Homo sapiens: one gene and its partners. The protein of the gene in region 5 purifies or fractionates together with the protein of the main gene of each other region. This does not show direct contact. Each region holds a gene or a part of one and is shown on either strand. Other genes may lie near its edges. The genes, in order: PPP4R3B, KIF5C, CREB3L2, SEPTIN2, KLC2, KIF5A and PPIL2.

The links.
Region 1: the proteins of KLC2 (region 5) and PPP4R3B fractionate together in Homo sapiens (co-fractionation; one large-scale study listed by BioGRID). This does not show direct contact.
Region 2: the proteins of KLC2 (region 5) and KIF5C purify together in Homo sapiens (affinity purification with western blotting; 3 studies listed by BioGRID and IntAct, with this or other methods). This does not show direct contact.
Region 3: the proteins of KLC2 (region 5) and CREB3L2 purify together in Homo sapiens (co-immunoprecipitation; one large-scale study listed by IntAct). This does not show direct contact.
Region 4: the proteins of KLC2 (region 5) and SEPTIN2 fractionate together in Homo sapiens (co-fractionation; one large-scale study listed by BioGRID). This does not show direct contact.
Region 6: the proteins of KLC2 (region 5) and KIF5A purify together in Homo sapiens (affinity purification with western blotting; 3 studies listed by BioGRID and IntAct, with this or other methods). This does not show direct contact.
Region 7: the proteins of KLC2 (region 5) and PPIL2 purify together in Homo sapiens (affinity purification with mass spectrometry; one large-scale study listed by BioGRID and IntAct). This does not show direct contact.

What each region holds. Positions count from the first base shown.
Region 1 is NC_000002.12:55,596,860-55,600,960, forward strand, and holds part of PPP4R3B (serine/threonine-protein phosphatase 4 regulatory subunit 3B), read right to left. Parts: intron 2,181-4,101; coding exon 1,557-2,180; intron 1-1,556. UniProt on the Homo sapiens protein: Regulatory subunit of serine/threonine-protein phosphatase 4 (PP4). May regulate the activity of PPP4C at centrosomal microtubule organizing centers.
Region 2 is NC_000002.12:149,007,538-149,011,638, forward strand, and holds part of KIF5C (kinesin heavy chain), read left to right. Parts: intron 1-425; coding exon 426-530; intron 531-2,597; coding exon 2,598-2,814; intron 2,815-4,032; coding exon 4,033-4,101. UniProt on the Homo sapiens protein: Microtubule-associated force-producing protein that may play a role in organelle transport. Has ATPase activity. Involved in synaptic transmission. Mediates dendritic trafficking of mRNAs.
Region 3 is NC_000007.14:137,991,844-137,995,944, reverse strand, and holds part of CREB3L2 (cyclic AMP-responsive element-binding protein 3-like protein 2), read left to right. Parts: intron 1-4,101. UniProt on the Homo sapiens protein: Transcription factor involved in unfolded protein response (UPR).
Region 4 is NC_000002.12:241,332,471-241,336,571, reverse strand, and holds part of SEPTIN2 (septin-2), read right to left. Parts: intron 1,447-4,101; coding exon 1,360-1,446; intron 1,251-1,359; coding exon of another isoform or gene 1,221-1,250; intron 614-1,220; exon of another isoform or gene 598-613; coding exon 474-597; intron 1-473.
Region 5 is NC_000011.10:66,260,558-66,264,658, forward strand, and holds part of KLC2 (kinesin light chain 2), read left to right. Parts: intron 1-1,167; exon of another isoform or gene 1,168-1,184; coding exon 1,185-1,415; exon of another isoform or gene 1,416-1,455; intron 1,456-1,565; coding exon 1,566-1,635; intron 1,636-2,256; coding exon 2,257-2,479; intron 2,480-3,102; coding exon 3,103-3,190; exon of another isoform or gene 3,191-3,293; coding exon 3,294-3,395; intron 3,396-3,488; coding exon 3,489-3,662; intron 3,663-3,787; coding exon 3,788-3,887; intron 3,888-4,101. UniProt on the Homo sapiens protein: Kinesin is a microtubule-associated force-producing protein that plays a role in organelle transport. The light chain functions in coupling of cargo to the heavy chain or in the modulation of its ATPase activity.
Region 6 is NC_000012.12:57,556,323-57,560,423, forward strand, and holds part of KIF5A (kinesin heavy chain isoform 5A), read left to right. Parts: intron 1-4,101. UniProt on the Homo sapiens protein: Microtubule-dependent motor required for slow axonal transport of neurofilament proteins (NFH, NFM and NFL). Can induce formation of neurite-like membrane protrusions in non-neuronal cells in a ZFYVE27-dependent manner.
Region 7 is NC_000022.11:21,682,925-21,687,025, forward strand, and holds part of PPIL2 (RING-type E3 ubiquitin-protein ligase PPIL2), read left to right. Parts: intron 1-257; coding exon 258-333; intron 334-1,828; coding exon 1,829-1,989; intron 1,990-3,558; coding exon 3,559-3,634; intron 3,635-3,967; coding exon 3,968-4,074; intron 4,075-4,101. UniProt on the Homo sapiens protein: Has a ubiquitin-protein ligase activity acting as an E3 ubiquitin protein ligase or as an ubiquitin-ubiquitin ligase promoting elongation of ubiquitin chains on substrates.

The DNA of each region.
Region 1 (4,101 bases), on a different chromosome or scaffold from region 5:
AGGCTGAGGCAGGAGAATCGCTTGAACCCAGAAGGTGGAGGTTGCAATGAGCCGAAATCACACCATTGCACTCCAGCTTGGGCAACAAGAGTGAAACTCCGTCTCAAAATAATAATAATAAAAAATAGCTGCATCATCGATATATATAATAGGCAAATTCATAAAGAGTAGAATAGTGGTTACTAAGAGCTGGAAGGAGGGAATATGGGGAGTTACTGTTCAATGGGTTCAGAGTTTCTGTTTGGGATGATGAAAAAGTTCTGGAAATGGATAGTGGTAACTGCTGCATAACACTGCAAATATACTTAATGCCAATGAATTGTACACTTAAAAATTGTTGAAACTGGCCGGGCACAGTGACTCATGCCTGTAATCCAAGCACTTTGGGAGGCCGGGGCAGGTGGATCACCTCAGGTTGGGAGTTCGAGACCAGCCTGACCAACATGGAGAAACCCCCCTCTACTAAAAATACAAAAAATTGGGCTGGGCGGGGTGGCTCACGCCTGTAATCCCAGCACTTTGGGAGGCTGAGGTGGGTGGATCACAAGGTCAGGAGATCGAGACCATCCTGGCTAAAATGGTGAAACCTTGTCTCTACTAAAAACACAAAAAATTAGCTGGGCGTGATGGCGGGCGCCTGTAGTCCCAGCTACCCGGGAGGCTGAGGCAGGAGAATGGCGTGAACCCGGGAGGCGGAGCTTGCAGTGAGCCAAGATTGCGCCACTGCACTTCAGCCTGGGCGACCGAGCAAGACTCCGTCTCAAAAACAAACAAACAAACAAACAAACAAAACTAGCTCGGCGTGGAGGCACATGCCTGTAATCCCAGCTACTCAGGAGGCTGAGACAGGAGAATCACTTGAACCCAGGAGGCAGAGGTTGCGGCGAGCTGAGATCATGCCATTGCACTCCAGCTTGGGCAACAAGAGCAAAACTCCATCTCAAAAAATAAATAAATAAATAAATAGTCAAAACGGTGAATTTTATGTTATGTATATTCTACCTCAATTTTAGAAACACAAATACTAAATTGTATAAAAAGCTAAAACACAGGCTACTTAAAAATATAAAAGGCTGGGCTGGGCGCGGTGGCTCACGCCTATAATCCCAGCACTTTGGGAGGCTGAGGCGGGCGGACTGCCTGAGCTCAGGAGTTCAACACCAGTCTGGGCAACACAGTGAAACCCCTTCCCTACTAAAAATACAAAAAAATCAGCTGGGCATGGCAGTGCACACCTGTAGTCTCAGCTAATCGGGAGGCTGAGGAAGAAGAATTGCTTGAACCCGGGAAGCGTAGGTTGCAGTGAGCTGAGATTGCGCCACTGCATTCCAGCCTGGGCGACAGAACGAGACTCCGACTCAAAAAAATAAATAAAAGGTTGCACTAAAACCACAAGACATAAAGTCCCAATTTCTTTTGTTTACTTTAAATGTACTTAATAGTACATTTAAACAAAATAAATCTTTCAAAAAATAGAGGGTATAAACACCTGCTTGAACTATTAAGGGAACTAAATATCTGAAAAATGGAATCGTGAAGAGTATCTTTTTACTTACCTGCAACATGCTGACTATCTCAACTTTGTTGAAGAAAATAAAAGACGTAAGAGTAGAAAGAAAATTCTCTTCAAAAACAGATGGTGTGGGCAAAATGATGTCCTGAATGTACTGTACCCTGTAAGTCTGATGTATTTTTTGCCTTAGTTCAGAGTCTGTTATTGGTATAACTTCCTTGAACTTTGCAGTTTTGGTCAAGAATTCTCTATGTCTTTTTGGCTGAGCCAAAGCAGGGTCATATTCAAGGCATCCCACGACATCCATGATACACTCATCAGAAAACATTACCTCAAAAAGAGTTGCCTTATTTAGGAATAAGATTCCTCTAATAATTTCATACAAATGGTGTAAGCCTTCAGTGTTTTCTAGGTTCTCGCAAGCTTGGAACAGCTGCAATAGTTTTTTAATATAGCCTTCATTTTCCAAGGCGAGAGCCAGCTTTTCCCTACGGATAGGTGAGGAGAGCACTGAGGTAACTAAGTCAGCAATCTCTTCAAGTTTATTGAGTTCACATGTGGGCAGGTCAATCAGATGACTAGTTTCAGGCATTTCTTCAAATCGTTCTTCTTCAGATTCATCAATGAGGTCCTGTGTGACTTCCACTGATGGGTCTTTACCTTGAACCTAAAAATATCCAAGTATACAGCTAATTACCTTAAAATACAAAATAATTCAAAATTTTGGAAATCAAATCATTTGGAAATGCCTGGCTAGTCACTACTAATTAAAAGTGAAGTCTAGGCCAGGCACGGTGGCTCACGCCTGTAATCCCAGCACTTTAGGTGGCTGAGGCAGGCAGGTCTCTTGAGGTCAGGAGTTCAAAACCAGCCTGGGCAACATGGTGAAACCCCAACTCCACTAAAAATACAAAAATCAGCCAGGTGTGGTGGCATACGCCTGTAATCTCAGCTACTCAGGTGGCTGAGGCAGGAGAATCGCTTGAACCTGGAAGGTGGAGGTTGCAGTGAGCTGAGATCGCACCACTGCACTCCAGCCTGGAAGACAAAGCAAGACTCTGTCTCAAAAAATAAAATAAAAAATTAAAATAAAATAAATAAATAAAATAAAATGAATTCTCTTCCAGCTTGGTCCCTGAATGACTCTCATGAGTAGGGCCCCTTCCCCTATTGGTCAAACAGCATTAAGGAGAAATCAACTTTTGTTGTGACAAGCCATTGAAATTTTAGGATTGTATTACTACAACACAATCTGATCATAACGTCTCAGAGACAGCCAATGAACTCTGCTGTATGGATTCACAATAAATCCACACTATCAATAGGGTTTTTCAATAAAAATTCTCTAGTCTATAATCCTATCGTCATCCCTTACAGCTGCTGCTTTAAATATTTTTTCACTTTCCAACTTCTCAAACATTACCTTCACCTTTAAGTCTCAGAAGATAAGAGGCTTCCTTTGAATAAAAAGCCCATCAGTACTCAACTTCCTCTAACATTTCTCCATCTCACAACTTACCTTCACACATTTCCTTCATTCATTTCAAAGGAAATGTCTATACCATTTCCTAAGGTTAACATTTCCATATGTACTTCTAAACTTATGCTTTCTCAAAGCTAAACATATAAAAATTATCTTTGCTCTTGTTTTTATAATTTATTTCTCTCCAATGGTTCCTTCTATTTCATCATTCTCCAATCCCCTTAAGACACTCTGAACTATCTGAACCATCAAACTTTTTCAGGGAAGCTTTTTTGTTCTATTTTCTCATTATAAGGGGTGGCGGCTCACGCCTGTAATGCCAGCACTTTGGGAGGCCAAGTTGGGCGGATCACCTGAGGTCAGGAGTTCAAGACCAGCCTGACCAACATGGAGAAACCCTGTCTCTACTAAAAGCACAAAATTAGCTGGGCGTGGTGGCGCATGCCTGTAGTCCCAGCTACTCGAGAGGCTGAGGCAGCAGAACTGCTTGAACCTGGGAGGCGGAGGTTGCAGTGAGCCGAGATCACACCACTGCACTCTTGCCTGGGCAACGAGAGTGAAACTCTGTCTCAAAAAAAAAAAAAAAAAAAAAAAAAAAAAAGGCGGGCAGGGGTGGTTAAGAAATAATTAAGTAATATGGCGCTTACTGAAATTGAAATTGTCCTTTCAAAGATCAGTAATGACTTCCCAGAACTGAAAAAGTAAAACATGAGATATGATTTTGTGAAATATCATGCAGTAGTTAGGAGCAAAAAACTAAATACATATTCAGCAACATGCACAGATTTTAAGAAGTAGAGTGCTGCGTTGTACAGTAAAGAGTTAACTTTGCTGGGCTATCAGAGTGCTATCTAATATCCCTTCCAAAGGTGGAAAAGTCTGAATAAAAATCAATGACAAAGAAAAAAATAAAATTTAAAAAAACAATGACAAATGGAAAGGAGAAACAGTAAAAGAGGGAAAAAAACATGAAAAAATGAGTAATGTAACAAGGAAAATTCAGTATTAACATTGGTGCCTAAGCTGGGCGCTGTGGCTCATGCCTGTAATCCCAGCACTTTGGGACGCTGAGGCAGGCAGATCACGAGCTCAGGAGTTCAAGACC
Region 2 (4,101 bases), on a different chromosome or scaffold from region 5:
CAAGTTTGGTGACTTGTTGTCCCACCATGATGGCTGAAATCAAATTTAGGTCCTGGGTTTATGTTTTTGCAGTTGTTGTTTCTTAATGAGTTTTGGAATGCTTTCTTTTGAAAAGAAGTCTCTATTTACTACATGAAAGGCAGATGTATATTTTACTGAAGATAAATCATCTACAACTTTCAAAAGCAGATTTGAAGGAGTTTTTTTTTTTTAGCTCTCTAAAAATTAGCTCCTCAAATCGCTTTTCATACTAATAAGGGAAATTAATTGGGGGATTTCTTGAGTCTAAACTTTTAGAACCTCTATTTTCACTTTCAGAATACCCTTTGGTGGGAATGGGGATTTTTTTTTTCCATCCACATTATCCTGGGGCGGAGGGTGGGTGGGTGACAGCCTGTCCTGCTGACCCCTTGGTGTCAATGCAGAGTGTGGAGTTGGACAACGATGATGGAGGGGGCAGTGCTGCCCAGAAGCAGAAAATTTCCTTCTTGGAGAATAACCTGGAGCAGCTCACCAAAGTTCACAAGCAGGTAGGAGAGTTCTGCCCGCTCCCCTCTGATTCCCTCCTCTCTCCTGGAAAGAAGCCCCACCAGGTTTGGCCACAGTGTGCGGAGAAGGCACTGAGATTGAAGGTAAAAGAACTGTACACTATCAGAGGACATGAGGGCTGGAAAGGTCCTTACAAATCCTTTAGTTCTCAGTGACTTCCCGTATATATAAAGGACTTTCTTTTATCAAAGCCAAATATAACGCATAGGGTTTGAGCTCTCTGGGGTTGGAGAGGGAAGTGTTCAGAGGCCTGTCTTTTCATCCTGCCTCCACCCCTGACTTTGGACACCATCTAGCCTCTGTGTCTCCCATGACACCTCTGAGGTACCTCTGTGGACCTGAAAGTGGACACCACTGAGCTGGTTCAAGTCCTTTATTTTTACAGATGGGGAAACAGACTGGTGCCTTGCTTCATTGCACCGTGGGAGGACCGGGACTGGAACCAGCACCCTCTCTGCTCAGCTGCCCATTCCTAGCGATCTCAGATGCTCTCTCGGATGCCTGCGATGTGCTGGCATTTGTCTAGAGTGACAGAGAGTGATAACTGTGTCCAAACTCACCAGTGATTTCAGCAGGTCATTTGTCTTGGATACTTTCTTTTTAAATGTTGGTGTGTGCATGGCTGTTTTCCCTCTTTAGGAATTGGGATATGATGGAAACGGCCCAAGTTTTTAGACCACATGGCCGAGGAGATGTCATTTCTCTTTGACTTGTTAAGTCTTCTTCAATATTACTGATGATGGCATTTTTTCCCCAGAGAGAGGATGATAGATTCTAGATAGTTGAAGTCACTCAAACAAATTGTCGATGAGAAATACGAAAGCAGAAACTGTCAGGGAGCTTGAAATAGGGCTCTGAGATGCATTTTTAAAATTTATTTTTATTTATTTTTGTTTTTTTTAATGTTTTTTTTTTTTTTTTGAGGCAGAGTCTTGCTCTGTCGCCCAGGCTGGAGTGCAGTGGTGCGATCTCTGCTCAGTGCAACCTCTGCCTCCTGGGTTCAAGAGATTCTCCTGCCTCAGCCTCCCGAGTAGCTGGGATTACAGGTGCGCGCCACCACTCCTGGCTAATTTTTTTGTATTTTTAGTAGAGACAAGGTTTCACCATGTTGGTCAGGCTGGTCTTGAACCACTGACCTCGTGATCCGCCCACCTTGACCTCCCAAAGTGCTGGAATTACAGACGTGAGCCACTGCACCCAGCTGAAATGCATTATCTTATTCATGGATTGAACGAGCATTTATTAAAAATGTACTCTCTGCCAGGCACTAGAGCTGGTGCTAGGAGAACAAAGCAGGAGACCCAGCAGTAGCTCACTTTGGTGTAGCACTTTGTGATTTTCAAAACTCCCTCCATCCATCTGGGTCCCCTATTATGTAGTACACTTGTGTTATAGATGAGAAACTTGAGACTTGTGGTGGTCAAATGACTTACACCAAGTCAGATGGCCAGGACATAAAGAGCTGGCCCTTGAGCCCACTCCTACCTAGGGCTGGGCTGTTGCTTCTTCAATCAGCAAAAAGGCGCAGTCTCCTCCTCTTACCTTAGCCTCTGGATGTGTTGCAAAGCTGGGTCCAAACCCCATGCCAGTGTAAACAGCAGGTTCTGCATGGAAGGAAGCCCTCTGAGAGCTCAGGAACATGCTTGTTTTTCACTGAGTCCTTTCAAACCGACTTTAAGTGTTTCAGCTTTCTCATGCTAATTTAGTATTCTCATATGTGGTCGATTTTCTCACACAATCCCCCTTTCCTCTACACACACCCAAACAGAAGAGGAGGTAAATCCTGCCTCAGATGGAAAGTTTCTTGTGGTGGGAAATAGGTTTTAATTGTATCCCCACCCCACCGTTCCTTGCACCCTGTGAATCACGTGTTCAGGAACCTGGACCCCACAGTCTGAGTTTTCCTTTCCTTTCTGTGGTTGTACGGAGTGCCAAGGACAACCTAGCAGGGGCCACCTGTTCAGCAGCAGGGGCTGCTTCTGGCTGCTCTGGTTTGTGCAATGCTGCCTGCCTGGTAGTAACTCCCTTCCTTTATCCTCCTGCCCCAGCTGGTCCGGGACAACGCAGACCTGCGCTGTGAACTGCCCAAGCTGGAGAAGCGGCTGCGTGCCACGGCGGAGCGCGTCAAGGCTCTGGAGAGCGCGCTGAAGGAGGCCAAGGAGAACGCCATGCGGGACCGTAAGCGCTACCAGCAGGAGGTGGATCGTATCAAGGAGGCCGTGCGGGCCAAGAACATGGCCAGAAGGGCCCATTCAGCCCAGATCGGTACGTGCGTGCACAGTGGCGCCCGGGGTTTGAGAAGCTACTGCGGCCTCTCAGCTCAGATTTGCTAAAAGGTGAAGACAGCGCTGGCCCACTCTGGAACATCTGAAAGGCTGGGTTGGAGCCCGCAGGACGCAGCCCTCACCGCACCCTGTGCTCACCCTGTGGGAATGGGAATGTCAGGCGCCCCCGTTATCCTACTCTGAGATATTCCAGCATACATCGTGGTCTCAAAACTTCTGAGCTGGGCAGAGAGAAGCCAGCCAAGGCTGTAGGCCTAGGTCTTGGGCTATAAATGGGTACACTCTTAGAAATACTGGAATAGGAGGATATTTCTCTGCAAGGTGTGAAGGGCCCTGTGTTCTGCACCCGGTGGGAGCATGAAGGAGCCCATATGTAGCCAGAGCCCCAGGGAAAGCCTCCAAGTGCAGGTTTGGAAATACCCCTGGAAGAGCCAGGCTGGCATCCATGACAGGGTGTGGCTACAGGCTGGCACAGAACCTGGGGAGGTCTGGAGTCTCAGCCTCTTCAAGACCTGTATGGATTTGGGCATTTTGCCCATGTAGGAAATGAGGGTGTAGCCAGAGTCCTGGTTCCCAGGATAGCCATAGGGACAAAAACAATTTAGGAATATTCTCTAAACAGCTTCTTCTCCTTTTTTTTTTTTTTAAATTGAAACATCTCCAATAACATGTAATTTATTTCCCATCAGATATTGCTGTGTAGATGTATTGCAAACCAGCAGTTTCACGTTTCTAGTTTTAAATCATACCTTAGAATAGTGGTTCATTGCATGTGTAGGATTTCATACCCTTTGAGAATCTATTAAAAGCTATGGACCCTCTCCCCAGAAAACAGCATCACAGGCAGAATTCTGCATCCAATTTCAGGGGCTACACAGATATCCTTGAAAGTCATGGGGAACCTACGATCCATTTCAGATGAAACTGAAAATCTTTTTTTCTAACTTTTCTTGGCCCAAATTAGAAATGAGCTAATTGATGTTTAAGTTCTTTCTGTCCCCTAAATATTTGGATGCCTTGGATTTGCTAAGTATACTGATAGTTTTCCCATTTTCAGAGAGATCTGGTGGTTGATAAGAATTGTACTGTTGGTAAGAATTGTGACTTTTAGTTGTCACAGGTGACCTGTAGATATCAGGGTTGCTGTTAAGACTTTTCTAAATGTCTGTTCTCTCTTCTTTCTGTTGGTTGGATACAGCCAAGCCCATCCGCCCCGGACACTACCCGGCCTCATCTCCAACGGCCGTCCATGCCATTCGAGGGGGAG
Region 3 (4,101 bases), on a different chromosome or scaffold from region 5:
CTGAAATTGTTCTCATGATAGTAACATTGGTTGGGAGGTGGTAGACATAGGCACAGTCCTGAAAGATGAGAGGGCAGTACAGAGTTTTATATTTGCCCTCCTTCTCGAATGATCCCTGAGTTACAGTGTTCATGGGAAACAGGGGTCTCTGATGTGACATTGCTTTTGCAGGAGTTATAAGATATAGCATCTAGATTAATAATTGAATTAATTACAGTGCTTGCAGCTAGAAGTAACTGAAAATGGATTCAGATCGGCTCATACAGTAAGTAAATTATCTCATGTTGCAAGAGGTTGTGAAATAGAGCCCCTGGCCGGGCGCGGTGGCTGACGCCTGTAATCCCAGCACTTTGGGGGGCCAAGGCAGGTGGATCACAAGGTCAGGAGTTCAAGAGCAGCCTGGCCGAGATGGTGAAACCCTGTCTCTACTAAAAATACAAAAATTAGCTGGGCGTGGTGGCGGGCGCCTGTAATCCCAGCTACTCGGGAGGCTGAGGCAGGAGAATCCCTTGAACCTGGGGGGTGGAGGTTGCAGTGAGCCAAGATCATGCCACTGCACTCCAGCCTTGGTGACAGAGTGAGATTCTGTCTCAAAAAAAAAAAAAAAAAAAGAAAGAAAAGAAAAAAAAAGAAATAGAGCTCCTTGTTGGCTGATTCAGCAGTTCCTCAATGGACCTTGGTTCTGCCCATGTGCAGCTTTCATCCTCAGGTTGGATGTGTGATGGACATAGGAGTTACAGGGGTTACATTCAAAATGACAACATCCAGAGGAAGAAGAGAAGTTGTCTCTTTCTTGTGTCCCTTTTTTAGAATGGAAGAAACTTTTCTTACTAGCCCACTAGCTGATTTTTCTTAAAGCTTTATTGGTAAGGATTCGGTCATATGACCATTCTTAAGCCAATGGCTGGAAAGGAGAATGGGATTTATATTATCAGCTTAGATTAATCATATGGGGATGGAGACTCAACCAGCATGACCATTGGGATCATTAGTAAAATAGTCTGAGTTAACAATTCTTTCCTTAGTCAAAAGGTATGTTTCTTTTCTCATGAACATGGGCTAGCAACTAGAAAATTTAAAATTCACAGTAATTTGCCCTGGGCGCAAAACAGTAAACCCAAGTACTGTGCCACTCGCAGAGTTCTTTTGTTTTTTGTTTTTAAATAGAGACAGGGTCTCCTTATGTTGCCTAGGCTGGTCTTGAACCCCTGGGCTCAAGGGATCCTCTGCCTCGGCCTCCCACAGTGCTAGGATTACAGGCATGAGCTATCACGTCCGGCCCAGCAAAGTTCTAAGAATATTATTTAGCTGTGCTACCAATGCCCAGTGAAAGAAGACTATAGATGTAGAAATAGCCTCTTGAAAGTGCAGGGAAAGGCTAGGGAGGGGTGGGAGCCAGGAGGAGATTATGGCTATGTCTTGACTCACTAACTAGGAGATGTAGAATTAACTGTATTATCTGGACTCTTGGCGTCAGAGTAGAATACCAGGGCTGGAGGTAGCTAGCTGAGCCTGTAATCATGCTTACCATGCAGGACAAGAATGATTTGTTCTGTTTGGGATCGACAGCAGGTGGCAAGCTAAATGCCATTTTTCAAAGAAGCAATTTTTCCAGTTGCATATGGCTGTTCAAATATTGATGAGGGCACATGTGCCTGTCTGCAGCTAAAACTGCCGGCCTCAGCCTGACATGGCTCTACGCTGTCTGGTGACTCTCTTGGGGTAAATAGCCTTAAGCCTTAGCTGGGCATTTGGTAGGATTGAGGCCTATGGTTGCAGGGCATCTGAATTGTCCAAATGAGTGATCTTATGAGTGAGGGAGTGCTGCCCTTGTTTTCTGCCCCTGTGGAATCAGGATGGAAAGGAAATAATGAGACCCACTGTCTCTGGATCAACCTTGAGCCTATTTCTCTTTTTCCCTGCTCAGTGGATGCACCCTGGCCTTTCTAAATGAAGTGCTAAGGGATCTTGATTTTTCCTTGAATCAAATTGTATAGGTTATTCATGAGGCACATGGGAGAAGATGGGCCATTTTATCTATGGGGAATGTAAGACATAGAGCAGTAGAGATTTGCTCAGCACAAGTTCCTTGAGGACAGGAGACATGACTGTCTCTTCTATACCCTCATGGTCCTTAGTCAAGTGCAGGATGCCCAGAGAATCGTAAGTGCTTGATGCATAGTTAAGTAGAGTGAGGCAGTCCTGGAAAATGGATAAGCTGGGTGGCTTTGGCCTGTTTTTATATATTTTTAAAACTCTGGGCAAGACGTGGTAGCCCATGCTTGTAATCCCAGCGCTTTCAGAGGCTGAGGCAGGAGGATCGCTTGAGCCCAGGAGGTTGAGTTTACAGTGAGCTGTGATCACGCCTCTATACTCCGGACTGGGCAACAGAGTGAGACCCTGTCTCAAAATAAATAAATAAATGAGCAAACAAACAAATAAACTCTGGATTCTTGTAAACGGTTTTGCAAATGTGAAAATTCAGTATAATAGTGACTTGGGTAATTCAGTGTTGATATCTTTTCTTGTTTTGATTAGAGAACAAGGTGGGCGTGGGGTGATTGAAACAGTCCCTGTTTCCAGTGGGAGTGGAGTTGATGGCATGGTGGAAAGGGTGGGCTTTCAAGGCAGGCCATTTTGATGTTGAGGGACACAGGCTCTCTGGTGACCTTGGGTACATTACTTCACCTATTTGGATTTCAGTTTCTTTGCATGTCACTGCCTGATCCATAATAGAAGTACTTTTCCAACCTATCCCCTAAGTCAAATGTCTTCTCTTTGAGAACAAGGTGTCCCAACCTTAGGAGTCTGACATCATTCAGAAAGTGGAGAGAGCCTGTCATTATTCTCTCTCATGCATCTTTATTTCCTCTCCTCTCCAGCTCCTACATTGTGCTGTAAACACAGGCCTCTGCCTTGAACACATGTTTGCCAGATGCTCCCTCTTACTCATTTCTTTTCTCTTGTTTACTGCCAGGTTTTCTCAAGTGCGTGGTCACCAGCCATGGCCTCCATTTCCTTAGTCTCTACCCTGTATCCTCTGCCCGCTGGGTCCTACTGCTCAACCTCTCCCTGGCTGCTAAATCCAATAGTCTTTTCTCTGTCCTTACCTGCAGGGCCTCATGGGACTATTTGGCAATACTGACCACAGGATTGTCTCATAACTCGTTTTTGCTTTGGCTTCCATGACACTCTGGCAAGCTTAGTTCTTCCTCCTTTTCTGGCTTCCATACCAGCTGTTAAATGTGAGTGTTTTGGTACTTGGCCTTCTCTTCTCTCTGTATGTTCCCCTGGGCTCTGCTATAAACTTCAGTGCATCTGGTTCTCAGTTTTTTATACTTGTTATTTGTCTTTTGACGAAAAGCAGATCTTTGGAGTTTGACTCAAGCCTGCTAGGTCCACCTGAGCAGCAGAACAGCTCTGGCTGGGTAACCCTTGAATTTTCATGTGTTTCTTGATGTGTTTCAAAGAAGAGCTGGGATGTTGATCCTTCTTATCGCTGCACCCATTTATCTCAGGGCATGTTGAGTGACTCAGCTCTCTTGCAGTGTAAACCCAAGAGGAGCTCATGGGTCATTCCTGGGATTCAGCTGCTTCTACAGTCCGTGTCACTCATTAGAGGCAAGCTGTGTTTTGCCTAGACTTTTGCTTGTACTTTGGCTTGGGAAACCCTCTGTGGCATCCTGTGGGGGTAGGTCTAATCTTTTCGACTGTGTGGAAGGTCAATTCAAAAGTGAGACGTAACTTCTTAGATCACGTACCATATTTTCCTCTTGTGTGTACAGCTGCTCTGGGGCTCAGCTACAGTTACCTCATGTTGAATTGCCTGCTTTTGAGTTGCTGTATTCTGGTGTAGGTGTAATCTGTTTATTTGAACTTTACTGATATTACGAAGAGCTTTGGGGATTTTTTTTTAAAGAATTGAGATGGGTTATTCTGAACCATCCATATTTTAATGCCCGATTCTTGTTAGAATTATTAACAGTAGTTCTTGGAAGAGAGTTTTTCTTTGGAGGATAAAGCTTTTTTTTTTTTTTGAGGCAGAGTCTTGCTCTGTTGCCCAGGCTGGAGTGCAATGGCGTGATCTTGGCTCACTGCAAC
Region 4 (4,101 bases), on a different chromosome or scaffold from region 5:
ACCAGGAGGGAGTTTGTACAACAAAAGTGGCATTCTTTGCACGGTACAGGTGACAGACTGCTCTATCTTCTACTTCTTCATTTCCTTATTTGTGAAAATGATGCCAATGAGCAGTCATTTACAGACACTACGACTCAACCCACTCTCTAACAGGTTTCACTTCCTTCCACATAGAAAGGATGTACTACAGTATCTCGGTCACCAACCACGGCTCAAATCCAGGTGTTTCATTTATACTAGCAGTCTATGGATGACTGGCTTTGCGATCTCAAATTACAGTAGAGTACCAGAAAAAAATTACTCTCTATAAAATTCCTTATTTAAAAAGTCAACATTTAACACGCTTTAAATTGTCTAGGTGTTTTATTATATACAGCAATCCCAAACTTAATAATCACTCATTAACACTATCTATAAATTTATGAAGTATATTAAGTAAACAAATGCAGATCCCTGGGCATGGGGGAGCATACCAATCTCTGCAGTTGATAGCGTCACCATAGCCAGGGGTATCTACCACTGTCAGGCGTAGCTTGACCCCTCGCTCTTCAATTTCAACAGTTGAAGCCTCAATCTGGACAGTTCTTTCAATTTTTTCTAGAAAAGAAACAAACTTAATAGGGAATATAAGCAGCATGTGAAGAGGAAAGCTCACGTTCTTACGACAGGTGACTTCAGAGTCTACTGCCTCTCTACAGAGGTAGGTTCTCCAAAGATACCATGGGGATTAAGAAAAAAAGATCCCAGAGAAGTCAGAAAGGGGAAGGTTAAAGCTAAGATTATTGTGCTACTGGGGAAGGTTAAAAACACAAATGTTAAAAATTATAATTTCTGTTCCTGGGAAAAAGAAAGCAATTTACGAATTCATTTAAAAACTGAATTCAAAAATATTCTGAAAGGGCTACATATTCTTGCAGCAGCCCAAGTCTTAGGCTCTCACTATGTGTGCCTATTTCATTCAACAGTCATTTGTGGATGCTGGTGTCCTGTGCTGGAACTTTCTGACAGTAGATGAATTCGAACATCTATCCTAGTAATCTTCTAGTTACACAGCATTTTTGATGTAAAACATTCTCACTTAATCCTTCCATCAAATATTTAATATAGGCAGAAACTACTTATTACATTTTACAGACAAACTCAAGAGAGGATGGATCCATGGATACGTGTCAAAGAAAGTCTACAACCCAAATCCAAGGACCTCGGTGCAGCACACCTACCCCATAAAAGTGTTTTCCTTGTGTTCAAAGCTGAACAAGAACAAACAAAACACACAGCTAAGACATAAAATATTAATTAGGCAGTCTTCAGCATCTTTCATGTAGAATTACACTTACAGTAACATAAGAATGTTTTTACCTGCTGCTCCAGGTATGACTCTTTCTGGGTACAGATCAGTTAGGAATAGGCTGTTTATGAGAGTCGATTTTCCTAGACCTGATTCACCTTTAAATAAAAAGAAAAACCTTGTCATGACCTTATTCATATGACACCATTCAATCGGTTAAGTGTTTACATAAGGCCTGGTACTGGGCTAAGTACCTCACAAACATCATTCTGTGTTTAGTACCTACAGTACTACTATGTTTGCAGTATGATCTTTGAGGGTACTCAAAGAAACTCTAATTTGCCCAAGGTCAGAGTACTATCCAGAGCAGGGCCAAGATTTGAATCCAGGTCTATGAGACTACAGAACTTGAACATCATATAATTAGAAACATAACTGTTCACAAATGTGAGGAATGTACTTTAGAGGTTGGTTTTTATTTTTGACAAATAGAATGCAAAGCAGGTTTTCAATTATCAGTTCTGCTAGTCACTAAACTCACCACATTTTCAGAAAACTGAACATATCTATCCCATAGTGTCAACAACCCTTGTGCTTCCCGAGCTGCAGAAACGTGTGAGCAGGACAGGGCCTGTGGTCTGGTGGGCTCACATGCACACCCTCACTCTGCAACCTCCCCCTTCTGCCACCTTGTCTTCTTCCTGCTTTAAATCCATCCCCGTTTCCCAGCACTGGCAACTGTCATATGTCGGGCAACTTTCCCGCTCACTTTGTTGAGTTCACACGACTAATTCAGGTGACACATATCCATGTAAGCTTTCAATGAGGTGAGAATCTCTCTTGAACTACTGTGACTACATATTCTGAATATTTGAAATTTAACTTCAAAAAAGATGCAAAATACCAAAAATTAAATTTTACATTTGAAGGAAGCACAAATCCCACTGCTTCATTGCAGATGATCATCTAGGTCTCAATTCTGCATGGAGAACTGCTTCTGATCTTGGTACTACTGGTGCTGGACTGTCCTCTGGGTACCCTAAACCACCCTCTGTTAAGTTCTGCAAAGCATGAGGAAGGAGTACACATCTCTTTTGAAAAATTATTTCTGGCTGGGCATAGTGGCTCACACCTATAATCCCAGCACTTTAGCAGACCAAGGCTGGAGGATCACTTGAGGCTAAGAATTCAAGACCCCGCCTGGGCAAAATAGTGAGACCCCCATCTCCCAAAAAACCAAAACAAAGTAAAAAAAACCCCAAAACCTTAGCCAGGTGTTGTGGCTTGTACCTAGAGTCCCAGCTACTTGGGAGGCTAGGGCAGAAGGATTGCTTGAGCCCAGGAGTTAGAGATTACAGCAGGCTATGATCATGCCACTGCACTTCAGCCTAGGTGACAGAGTGAGACCCTGTCCCTTACAGAATAAAACAATTCTGGGAAAATCAAGAACAAATAAGTGAATTTGCAATGTGCAGACGCACAGCCGGGCGCGGTGGCCCACGCCTGTAATCCCAGCACTTTGGGAGGCCGAGGCAGGCGGATCATGAGGTCAGGAGTTCAAGACCATCCTGGCTAACATGGTGAAACCCCGTCTCTACTAAAAATACAAAAAATTAGCCGGGCGTGGTGGCGGGCGCCTGTAGTCCCAGCTACTCGGGAGGCAGGAGAATGGCGTGAACCCGGGAGGCGGAGCTTGCAGTGAGCCGAGATCGCACCACTGCACTCCAGCGTGGGCGACTGAGCGAGACTCCATCTCAAAAAACAAAACAAAACAAAAAGAAACATGCAGACATACAAAATTAGGACTGCATTTTAAGTGAACTGCAATTTTCACACATGAAAAGAACAAAACAATGTGTTGAACATGCCTAAATATGAGTGTAAAAATTTGACTAAATGCCTGTTATCCCATTAAGTCATCCTTTTAATAAACGGTGGTGCAATGCCCCTTTACCTGTTTCTTTAGAAGTCTGACAAAATTTTAAAAACTGCCTTTCCTCTTCAATAGTCTCTCATTTACTAATTAGGTGTGTTAGGGTTTTCCTGATACACCCATTTTTCTTGAGCTATTAATACTACAATTTAAAAGTTGAGGATTCTTGTGGCTTTCTAGTTTTACTTTTCACTACTCACCCTCAACCCCCTACCTGTTTTATTTTAAAGCCACTTTGAGGCACGATTTACAAATACTAAAATACACCCATTTAAACTGTACAGTTTTGACAAAAGTAGATACTCAGATAATCAAACTCCACTCAAGATAAAGATTATTTTCATAACCCTAGAGTTGCTTTGTGTAACTGTGAAGTCTACCCTCTCCAGTCCCCACCGCAGGCAAACACCAATCTACTTTGTCACTATGTATCAGCTTTGCTTATTCTAAAACTTTTAAATGGCATCATACAACATGGCCTGTTTTGTGTCTGGCTGCTTTTGCTCAACAAAGCTCTGAGACTGATGCATGTTGTTGCATCTACGAGTAGTTCGTTTCTTTGTAGTGCTTGGCAATATTCCATTGTATGGCTACACCACAATTTGTTAATCCACTCTCTAGATACCTCTGCTGTCCCCAGTTTGGGGCTATTTTGAGAAAAGTAGCTATGAATATTCATATACAAATCTTTATGGACATGTTTTCATTTCTTGTGGGTAAACACATACAAGCAGTATTGCTGGGTCTTAACTGTTAAGGAAGTACCAAACTGGCTTCCATACTGGTTGTGGCATTTTTACATGCTCACTAGTAAGAGTTCCAGTTGTTTCACATCCTTGCTGACACCTGGAGTGCCTGCCTCTTAGTGGCTGGGTAGTGG
Region 5 (4,101 bases):
TAAATCCCGGACTTCATGAGACCCTGTATCTACAAAAAATAATTTTTCTTTTTTTTTTTGAGACAGTCTTGCTCTGTTGCCCAGGCTGGAGTATAGTGGCACGATCTCAGCTCACTGCAGCCTCTGCCTCTCAGGTTCAAGTGATTCTCCTGCCTCAGCCTCCTGAGTAGCTGGGACTACAGGCACGCGCCACCACACCCAGCTAATTTTTGTATTTTTGGTAGAGATGGGGTTTCACCATGTTGGCCAGGATGGTCTTGAAATCCTGACCTCGTGATCTGTCCGCCTCAGCCTCCTGAAGTGCTAGGATTACAGGCGTGAGCCACCGTGCCTGGCCAAAAAATTTTTTAAATTAGCCAGCTGTGGTGGTGTGCACCCGTAGTCCCAGTTACTCAGGAGGCTGAGGGGGAAGGACCACTTGAGCCTGGAAGGTAGAGGCTGCAGTGAGCTGTGACGGTGCCATAGCCCTTCGGCCCAGGTGACAGAGTGAGACATTGTCTTAAATTAAAAAAAAAAAAAAAAAAGAGAGAGCAAGAAGGGAGGTTGGACCCTAGGCAGGAAGGCAGGAAGAGACTGGAAACTAAGGAAAGGAGTTGCAGAGGCTGGGGAGAGGGGTGGGGGTTGAGGCCAAGGCCTTTGGATACTTTTCCTGCCCCTGTGGCTCCTCATGCCAACTGAGCATTTGGGACACATGCCCCTTCCCTACCTGGGAGCTGCAGAAAGGCAGGGGATGCTGTGGCCCCTCAGCAGAAGTGGGGATGGAGTCTTTGGGTGGTCCTTCAGCCATCTAGCAGAGTTCTGTGGGCAAGCGCTAGCCCTGAGGCAGGGAGCAGTAACCTACTGGCTGTGGCAGCAGAGGCTTGAGTACAACCCAGGGAGAGACGAAGGAAGGGGCTAGTAGCTCAGGGAAAGCACAGCACCCCAACTAGCCCTTTTGGGGTTCTCCTGATCCTAGAAGGAAGGAACTGGGGACTCCCAAGCCTCCTGGGTTTGGGCTTTGCATTATGGTGTGTCGGGGGCCTTGAGGAGATTCTCCCTTGACAAGCAGAGAAAAGACCTGCAGCTCCTCACTGTAGGGCCAGGCCTGGCCCTTCACTGGGTGCCAGAGCCCAACTAGGCCCAGGCTACAGTCATAGGCGAGGGGGTCGACAGGCCTCCGACCCTTACCTGGGCTGGTTGCACAGGTGATCTTGGCATTGTCGAGCCACCTGGGGGCTGTAGAATCAGAGAAGCAGAAGCTGCGGGCGCAGGTGCGGCGTCTGGTGCAGGAGAACCAGTGGCTGCGTGAGGAGCTGGCGGGGACACAGCAGAAGCTGCAGCGCAGTGAGCAGGCCGTGGCCCAGCTCGAGGAGGAGAAGCAGCACTTGCTGTTCATGAGCCAGATCCGCAAGTTGGATGAAGACGCCTCCCCTAACGTGAGCTCCTACCATGGTCACTGTTGCCCAGCAAGGAGGCCTGGGAGCAGGGAGGGGCAGCATGGAGCAGATTCGGCTCCACCCCAGCCCATGGACACCCCGGCTGCCCTGTGCCTCCTTCCCTGATGCTCATCCTGTCTTCCTTCCCAGGAGGAGAAGGGGGACGTCCCCAAAGACACACTGGATGACCTGTTCCCCAATGAGGATGAGCAGAGCCCAGGTGCGGATGGGCAGTTCTGGAGTGGGGGAAGGAAAGGTTGTGTGAACTCTTGGTCCTTGGGACCGAGTGGCTGCCATGTTCCTTCCTGCCTCACTTCTGATCATGACATCCTAGTGTGTTAGAGCTTCAAGAACAGTTGTACGTGCTGCTGCTTCTCACATCCCCCCAGCTCTGTGGTGAGCAGACATCACAATTAGCTGTGGAGTCACCAGCCTGGCTTCCAGTGCTGCTCTGCCACTAGCTTCCCTGACCCTTGGGAGAGTTCTCTTCCTCTCCGAATCACCTCTGAAGGAGGCACATGCAGACAGCCACAATGGGGCCAGTGCCTGCTTTGCTGATGGTACTGGTTATGCATCGGGGCCTCCACTCTGTACACAGGGACACAGGCTCAGAGGTTAGGCAGCTTGCCCCAGGACACAGAGCCTGAAGTACTGGAGCTGGGCCTCTACCCCCTCTTTCTATGGGGTAACTAGACCCATTCTATAAATGGGGAAACTGAGAAAGAGTGGTTAGTGACTTGCCCAGGGCCATGTGTCAAGTGGCTCAAAGGCACAGCTGGCATGTGCCATCCCAGTCCAGTGGGCAGATGGTACATCTGACCTCCTGCCCTTGGCCCTGCAGCCCCTAGCCCAGGAGGAGGGGATGTGTCTGGTCAGCATGGGGGCTACGAGATCCCGGCCCGGCTCCGCACCCTGCACAACCTGGTGATCCAATACGCCTCACAGGGCCGCTACGAGGTAGCTGTGCCACTCTGCAAGCAGGCACTCGAAGACCTGGAGAAGACGTCAGGCCACGACCACCCTGACGTTGCCACCATGCTGAACATCCTGGCACTGGTCTATCGGTGAGGACTCTCTGGGGGTGCCCAAATTCTTCTGGAAGGCTCCAGCCCTGGATCACTAACCCTTGGTGCCTGCTGTGGGCCAGGACTCGTGGCCCACCTGCGTGGAGCTGGGCTACAGATGCAAGTAAAACTGTCTAGTGTAAGAGAGAGGCTTGGCCAGAACTGGGGAGGGACTGCACATGAGGACTCCAGGGGTCCTGGGGAGTCCACACAGCTTCTCCAGGCACCAAGGCTGGAGGAGGGGCTTTGCCAGAAAGTGAGTTTGCCCAAACACAAGAGGGCTAGAAAAGGTTCCCATGGCAAAAAGCCAGCATGAGCAAAGGCACTGGGACCTGGAGAGCAGGACACGCTAAAGGGGCAGCAGGAGAGCCATGTGGCGCCCAGGAATGCTAGGCACCAGGCAGTCGGTGGGACCCCAGCACTGCGCACCCCAGCCAATTGTGAGAAAACTGCCTACAGCCCTTGGAGCTTGGAGAGCAGGAGCTGAGCAGGTCTCCCCACACTCTGGGTCTCACTCTGTCATACACACTCAGTGAGTACAGGAGTGACCACAGGGATTGCAGACCATTGGGGAGGGCCTTGAGCTGGAGGACAGCCCTGACCATGCTCCTACCTGCTCCCAGGGATCAGAACAAGTACAAGGAGGCTGCCCACCTGCTCAATGATGCTCTGGCCATCCGGGAGAAAACACTGGGCAAGGACCACCCAGCCGTGAGTGAGGGTTGGGTGGGAGGTGGGGGCTGTGCCCCATCCCCTGCAGGTCCCAGAGTCCTGCAGGGCCTGAGTCAAGAAGCTTCCGTTCTCCCACCTCCAGGTGGCTGCGACACTAAACAACCTGGCAGTCCTGTATGGCAAGAGGGGCAAGTACAAGGAGGCTGAGCCATTGTGCAAGCGGGCACTGGAGATCCGGGAGAAGGTGGGAACAGGCAGGGCTGGGCAGGCTGGGGGTCTGGGAGGCAGGGGCCCGGGCAGCCCTGAGCCCAACCCCTGGCTCCCTCTCCCATCCCAGGTCCTGGGCAAGTTTCACCCAGATGTGGCCAAGCAGCTCAGCAACCTGGCCCTGCTGTGCCAGAACCAGGGCAAAGCTGAGGAGGTGGAATATTACTATCGGCGGGCACTGGAGATCTATGCTACACGCCTCGGGCCCGATGACCCCAATGTGGCCAAGACCAAGAACAACCTGGTACCTTGGGGCTGAGAGGAGCTGGAGGATGGGAAGGAGGGAGGCAGGGATGAGGTTGGGGAAGAAGGAGAGAAAAAGGCTTGGCTGCATGCATCCCGCTCACTCTCTGGGTCTCCCGCTTCCAGGCTTCCTGCTACCTGAAGCAGGGCAAGTACCAGGATGCGGAGACCTTGTACAAGGAGATCCTCACCCGCGCTCATGAGAAAGAGTTTGGCTCTGTCAATGGTGAGTGCGTGGTCACCAGGTGCCTCTAGCCCATCCATCCCAGGCCCACTCTGCCATCAGCACCCAGGACAAATCCCTCAGCAGGGCAGGCCCTCAGGCTTTGGCCTGGCTGGTCACCAGCCTCACCCTCAGATGGTGCCCAGCCACCTGTGCTCACGTTTGCACACATGAGCACACACCCAACTCACGCAGCCCCCTTGGCCTGCTAGGGCCT
Region 6 (4,101 bases), on a different chromosome or scaffold from region 5:
GGAGACGGGGTTTCACCGTGTTAGCCAGGATGGTCTCGATCTCCTGACCTCGTGATCCACCCGCCTCGGCCTCCCAAAGTGCTGGGATTACAGATGTGAGCCACCGCGCCCAGCCCACTCTTGGGTATCTTTTAGACTCAGATCTGAGAATCTCTTCCTTCTTCCCTCTCTGCTCTTTTCTTTCTTCCCAGCCTAGACTGATGTAAAGGGGTTCCTGATGAAAAGGGGCTATAATTGGCTTCAGCATTTGGAGAGCGCTCTCCATTTTAATGCGTCTGTGGAGCCTTCTAGATCCTGTAACTGGGAATGTTTTGAGGGAGTGTGTGTGGGGGCTGGGGTGGGGTGGTTGGTGTGTTGGTGCCCATGTGTTTGTGGGGGGAGGGGAGGGGCAAGATTGGCTTGAGAGTTACATTTAATCCCCTTTGGCTGGGTGCCTGGCTTCATGAAGCATGGATAGAGATTGTTGGTGGGAAAGAGATGAGAAAGCCAGTCTCATCTTTTCACATTTTTCTGCCTGTTTTATATTCTGGCTGCACTGGCAGTTGATTAAATGATGCCCACCCAGATTAAGGGTGGATCTGCCTTTCCCAGTCCACTGACTCATATGTTAATATCCTTTGGCAACACCCTCACAGACACACCCAGGATCAATACTTTGCATCATTCAGTCCAGTCAAGTTGACACTCAGTATTAACCATCACAATTCCACCCCTCATCAACTTGAACCCATACACATCTCCTGAGATCGTACAAATCTTCAAATAAGGACAATAATAAGGTCATAATTATGCGCCTAATATAATACAACTATCCTTCGTACAACCGGAAATGCACCAATCCCCAACCCAAATGCTATTATATAAAGTTAACATACTTAAATGCTGATACGAAGTCAATAAGTCTTATGTCACATAATAAAGGAAAAAGGAAATTAAAAAAAAAAAGATGAGAGGCATTGGCTTGAGATAGACATATTTTGCTTGTTTCTGTTTCTTGGCCACTGGGTGGGAGAAACATTGAGGTAGATTACAATTTAAAATTAATTACAATTCAAAATTAAGGTAGATTTTTCTTTAATAATATTAAAAATAATGTAATTACAACACTAATACATTTTAATTGTTAACAAAGTTCAAGACAAAGGAAAGGACACCGAAGAAGCTAAAAATCACCCAATATCTTACCACCCCAAAGAAGCACTGTTATTAATAATAATTTGATGTATTTTTCCAGTGTTTTTTCTACATATATACATATGTTAATTTTAATAAGATTATATATCATAAACTATATATTGTTTTGTAACCTTTTTTCTCAAACAAAATATTATTACTATTTTGCCATTGTTAAATATTTTTACATAACTTTATTATTTTACAATTTTTCTGTTTTTTTTTTGAGATGGAGTCAGGCTGGAGTGTGCAGTGGTGTGATCTTGGCTCACTGCAACCTCTGCCTCCCGGGTTCAAGCAATCCTCCCACCTCAGCTTCCTGAGTAGCTAGGATTATAGGCATGTACCACCATGCCTGGCTATATTTTACAATTTTCAATTTAACTTTCGAATGTCTTACCTGCACATGTGACAAAATGCAAAGGATATGAAAAGGTTTATATTGTTTCCTTCTCCTTCTCACCCCTCTTTTCCAGCCACACAGTTCCCTTTTCAGAAGGCAACTTCTTGTGGATCTTTCCAAAAACCTACTATACATTTATAAGCAAATACATATATACATGCATACCTTTTTTTACACAAATGGTAGCGTATTATACATCCATTCTGCACCTTTAAAAACAAAAACAGCCTGGGTGTGGTGGCTCATGCCTGTAATCTAAGCACTTTGAGGCCGAGGCGGGAGGATCACTTGAGGTCAGGAGTTCGAGACCAGCCTGACCAACATGGTGAAACCCCATCTCTACTAAAAATATAAAAATTCTGGCTGGGTGCAGTGGCTCACACCTGTAATCCCAGCACTTTGGGAGGCTGAGGTGGGCGGATCATGAGGTCAGGAGATGGAGACCATCCTGGCCAACATGGTGAAACCTCGTCTCTACTAAAAATACAAAAATTAGGCCAGGTGCGGTGGCTTACGCCTGTAATCTCAGCATTGGGAGGCCAAGGCGGGTGGATCACCTGAGGTCAGGAGTTCAAGACCAGCCTGGCCAACATGGCCAAACCCCATCTCTACTAAAAATACAGAAATTAGCCGGGTGTGGTGGCGGGCGCCTATAATCCCAGCTACTCTGGAGGCTGAAGCAGGAGAACTGCTTGAGCCCGGGAGGCAGAGGTTGCGGTGAGCTGAGATGGAGCCACTGCACTCCAGCTTGGGCGACAGAGCAAGACTCTTGTCTCAAAAAACAAAAAGCAAAACAAACAAACAAAAAACCCAAAACAAAACAGAGTCTTGGACACCCTTCCTTATCAGCACATAAAGATTTATCTCATTCTTTTTTGGTTTTGTTTTGTTTTTCAAGACAGGGTCTCACTCTGTTGCTCAGGCTGGAGTGCAGTGGTGCAATCATGGCTCACTGCAACCTTCACCTTCGAGGCTCAGGCCATCATCCTGCCTCAGCCTGCTGAGTAGCTGGGACCACAAGGCCCATGCCACCACACCTGGCTATTTTTTTTTAATTTTTGTAGAGACAGGGTCTCCCTATGTTGCCCAGGCTGGTCTCCAACTCCTGGCCTCAAGGATCCTCCAGACTTGACCTCCCAAAGGGCTCGGATTACACGGTACATGAGCTATCTCATTCAACTGTATAATTTGTTGTAGGGATAGGCCATTATTTAACCAGGCCTCTGTTGGTGGACATTAAGGGTTGTTCTAATCATCTGCTATTACAAACAGTTGAATGACCTTGTATAAATATTTTTTGCATATGTGCAGTATGTCTACAGGATAAATTTTTCGAAGTGGAGGTCATAAAGCATATGCATTTAAAAATGTGAGGCTATTTCCAAATTGCCTTTCACAGAGTTGGCTCCAATTTCTATGTACCCTCAGCAGTATGTGTGAATATCTATTTACTCACATTCTCACCAGTGTAATGCGTTGTCTATTTTATTTTGGCCACTTTCATAGGTAAAAATGGTGTTTCATAGTTTTAATATGCATTTTGCTTATTAACAGTGAGGTCGAGCATTAATTAATATTAATTAATATATTTTAACATTTAGGAGCCACTATAACATCATTTTATGATGTTATAATTTATGATAGTGATATAATTTACATACAGTGTACAGATCTTAGGCAAACAGCTTGATAAATTTTATGACATATGTAGACACCCATGTAACCACTACACAGATCAAGATCTAGAACATTTCTGTCACTCCTGAAAGCTCCTTCATATCCTCTTCCTGTAAATACCACTTGTATGTTGTTACCACAATAGCAGGTAGCTGCTGTTTTGACTTCTAGCACTACAGATAAGTTCTGTCCATTCTTGAACTTCATATGAAGGGAGTAATACAGTATGTGCTCTTTTGTGTTTGGATTCTTTCAACGTGTTTTTGAGATATATTGACGTTCTATTTATTAATGTTCTATTATGATATTTTAATTTTATTTATTTATTTTTTTTGGGACAGAGTTGCACTTTGCTGCTCAGGCTGGAGTGCGGTGGCGCGATCTCGGCTCACTGCAACCTCTGCCTCCTGGGTTCAAGCGATTCTTGTGCCTCAGCCTCCCAAGTAGCTGAGATTACAGGCATGCACCGCTATGCCCAGCTAATTTTTGTATTTTTAGTAGAGACATGGTTTCACCATGTTGGCCAGGCTAGTCTCGAACTCCTGACCTCAAGTAATCTGCCTGCCTTGGCCTCCCAAAGTGCTGAGATTACAGGCGTGAGCCACCATGCCTAGCCAGTTATGGCATTATTTTAAATAACAGTGAGGAATAAAATATATGTATATGCTATAATTTAATTCACTCCTTAGGTTAACCAGTCTCCTAAATGTTACTCCTTTAAGTCGTCTTCAATTTCTCATTATTATAAGCAATGTGATGATAAACACCCTTGTAGCGAAATCTTGATTTCCATGATATCAATTCTTAGAAGTAGAATTTCTAGATCAATGGATATGTAAAATTTAAGG
Region 7 (4,101 bases), on a different chromosome or scaffold from region 5:
GTTAGCCATGTGCCTGGAGGAAGGTCACAGCTCAGCCAGCAGCTAGCGAGGCTGCGTCCCCGTCCCTGCCCCTGCCCCTGTTTGCTGCCCTGCCTGGGGCAGACCACCTCCTCCCTCATGCCCTGCTTGACTCCCCCAACCTCAGTGTAGCCCTGGCCTCTTCCACACCTCTGACAGCTGGCCGTCCTTTGCTGCATGTGGCTGCCATTTGGCCGTAGGCTGGGTTCACTCTGCTGGGCATTCTCTTTTTGCCACAGGACCCCACCAATTTGGACAAGTTCAATGTCTCTAACTTCTATCATGTGAAGAATAACATGAAAATAATAGACCCAGGTATGTACACCTAGGGGCTGGGCTAGGCGAGGGGGCTTTTGGATGAAATTGGGACAGTGCTCCCTGGGTAAAGCCCCCGCTTTCCTGGAGGTCAGGGGGTCCCAGCCCAGACAGGCCCTGCATTTTCTGAACTAGTGTTCAGAGAATCTGAGCCAACTGCAGCCTCAGAAACAATGGGCGGGATAGACTTGCTGCCCTGCCAGCACACCTGCTCAGGTTCCCCTGCTCCCTGCAGACTGGCCGGTGCTGTCAGTGGGCAGGTGGTGGGGTGATGGGGTCCTCCTGTTTCCCTGGCCTCTGGTGGCTGTCCTGCAGCCTTGGAGGAGCCAGCAGGACTCATGTTCAGAGGTCACTCGGCCTTGTGCTGCAGAGCAGTGGCCTGGGCACTTTGTGAGCATTGTTTGAACGGGTTTTAGGTAGGCTGAGCACGTGAACTGGGGAAGATTTGAGTCAGGAGAGCCTGAGGTCAGGGTTGGGGCTGGGCCGTGTCTGTGCTCTCTGCACAGGGATGCCGGCCCCTCTCCACAGGGTGGGCTGCTGTCCAAGGCCCAGTAGGCAGCAGGCACCCTCCTGAGTCGGCAAGAATGGGTGATTTCACATCTGGAAAGACCCCCAAACACTTCTATTATTTTAAATAAAAATAACCTTTAAAATTACAGAAGCAAAGCAACTGGGTGTGGTGGCTTATGCCTGTAACCCCAGCACTTTGGGAGGCCAAGGCAGGCGGATTGCTTGAGCTCAAGAGTTCGAGACCAGCCTGGGCAACATGGGGACACCCTGTCTCTACAAAAAATAGAAAAATTAGCTGGGTGTAGTTGGTGCGCCTGTAGCCCCAGCTACTTGGGGGGCTGAGGCAGGAGAATCGATTGAGCCCAGGAGGTGGAGGCTACAGTGAGCTGAGATCTTGCAACCGCTTTCTAGCTGGGGCGACAGAGCTAGACCCTGTCTCAAAAGGCTGGGCGCGGTGGGTCACGCCTGTAATCCCAGCACTTTGGGAGGCTGAGGCAGGCGGATCACGAGGTTACAAGATTGTAACACAAAAAAATTAGCCGGGCGTGGTGGCGGGCGCCTGTAGTCCCAGCTACTCAGGAGGCTGAGGCAGGAGAATGGCGTGAACCTGGGAGGCAGAACTTGCAGTGAGCCGAGATTGCACCACTGCACTCCAGCCTGGACGATAGAGCGAGACTCCATCTCCACAAAAAAAAAAAAAAAAAAAAAGAAAAAAAAAGCAAAGCGTATACTCTAAAAAGATTAGAATATACAGATAAATATAAAATATACAAATCAACCTGAAGTCCATCCTGAGACCCTTGTGAACTGCCTGGGGAGACCTTCAGGCCTGTAGCGGGGCACTGTGGCATTCTGTGGCTGGCAGTGGCACGGTGCCTGCGCCATGGCTGGACGGCCCTGGGCTATTCTAGATCTGTGTCCCCAGCACGTGTGTGGGGAGGCTACTGGGGGCTCGGCGGCTCAGGGCCATGCTACTGTTTTGTAGATGAAGAGAAGGCCAAACAGGACCCGTCTTATTATCTGAAAAATACAAATGCCGAGACCCGAGAGACCCTGCAGGAGCTCTACAAGGAGTTCAAAGGGGACGAGATTCTGGCAGCCACCATGAAGGCCCCGGAGAAGAAGAAAGTGGACAAGCTGAACGCTGTGAGTGGCGGAGGGCACTCGGCCAAGCCCAAGCCCCGTCTTCCTGCCCATCTCATGGCCTCTTGGAGTGGTCCTGGGAAAGGGGCTCATGGGGGCCTGGGATACACGGCAGGGAGGCAGCCAGGATCCCCCAGAGCTGTGGTGCCCCTGATGGCTCTGAGTGCACAGCCCTGGGGCTGCCCTGAGGCAGATAGAATCTGAGAAGGCAGAAGGGGAGGGGCTGATGTCCACACTGGTCGTTGAAGAACCAAGGGGTGTGTGGGGGCATGTAGGGGAGATCCCTGCCACAGAAGGTCTGCCTTGTGCTGTGGTCCCAGCCTGAGCTCAGTAGCCAGGGCAGGCACGTTGAGCGGGCACATGTGGTTCTGTGGTGGCTGGGAGGGCAGGGCCCGATGTGCACTGGGGCCCAAAGCCATGCCAGGGAGAGTTGGGGCGTTTCATGGTCTGCTGCGGTGCTGACGTGGATGGCATGCCTGGGACTGCACGGTGCCACCTGTCTGGGGCTGTCGTGTTTGCTTCTTCCTCCTGTCAGGCAGAGCATGGGGATCTGGAGCTAGGGGGAGGGCAGAGACATGGGCAGGTAGCTCTGAAGTTCTCCTTCTTAAAGAATTATTCAAATTCTGGAAAATTTGAAAAAGAAAGCTTGTTGTCCAGTGTGTCACTCCGTCTAACACACTGCCCTTAGCACTTTGATATATTACTTTTTTTTTTCTTTTGGAAACAGGATCTTGCTATGTTGTCTAAGCTGGTCTTGAATTCCTGGCTTCAAGTGAGAGCCTCCTGCCTTGGCCTCCGAAAGTGCTGGAATTACAGGTGTGAGCCACTGTGCCTGGCTTGTATTTTCTTCTGATGGGAGAAACCCCTTTTTCTTCCTCTATGATAAAAAATAACATTTATTGGGGCTTTTCCCCGACCCCTGATTAAATATGTAATGTGTTTAGTGTAGAAAGTTTGAAACTTTTAAAAAGAAATGAGGCCAGGCGTGGTGGCTCACACCTGTAATCCCAGCATTTTGGGAGGCTGAGGCAGGAGGATTGCTTGAGGCCAGGAGATCAAGACTAGGTTAGACAACATAGTGAGACCTTATCTCTACAAAAAATCAGCCAGGCGTGGTGGCATGCGCCTGTCGTCCCAGCTACTCAGGAGGCTGAGGTCGGAGGGTCACTTGAGCCCAGGAGTTGGAGGCTGCAGTGCACCAGGATCACACACCACTGCACTCCAGCCTGGGTACAGAGCAAGACCTTGTCTCATAAAAAAATTAAAATAAAAATAAATGAGAAGTCAGCCATACACTCCTAACCCTGAGGTGGCCAGTCCTGTGTGGTATTTTATCTCCAGGGTTTCACCTGATATCATAAGAGTCGGGATCCAGTGGAGGCCAGGGGACCCTGGCTTGGCCTAGCCTTGGCTTCTTCCTCCTGCTGGTTGGGGAGGCCCTCCTGGAGGAGAGGCACCAAGCAGGGCCTGGGGGGCAGGGGTGGCGTGTGGTTGGCTTCTAGGCAAGCGACACGTCCCCACCCAACTGCCTCCCATGGCACTGCTGAGGTGCCACCCTGGTTTCCTTGGCAGGCCCACTATTCCACAGGGAAGGTCAGCGCTTCCTTCACCTCCACCGCGATGGTCCCGGAGACCACACATGAAGCAGGTAGCCACCTTGGCCTCTGTAGCCACCTGCCATGTGACCCAAAAGTGGCAGGGGGTGGGTGTGCTCCCCGACTCCCACTTTATTGGTCTGTCAGGGGCTCCCACTGTCACCTGAGCCCCTAGTCCTCCCCCTCTTAGCTGCTGAACCCCTGCCAGCCCCATGAGGCTGGGGTGAGCCTGTGCGTGGCCTAAGCAGACCCTCGGCCTCCAGCTCCCCTGCTCTCCCCAGAGCTGGAGCCTAGTCCCCGCCTGTGTGTCTGAGGTCGGTGCTGCCTGGCATGGTGGGGCTGCCCCAGGGTGAGGGCAGGGGCTGAGCTGGGACCTTGGCTTGTAGCTGCCATCGACGAGGATGTGCTGCGCTACCAGTTTGTGAAGAAGAAGGGCTACGTGCGGCTGCACACCAACAAGGGCGACCTCAACCTGGAGCTGCACTGCGACCTGGTGGGTGTGGAGGCCAGCCACTCCCCA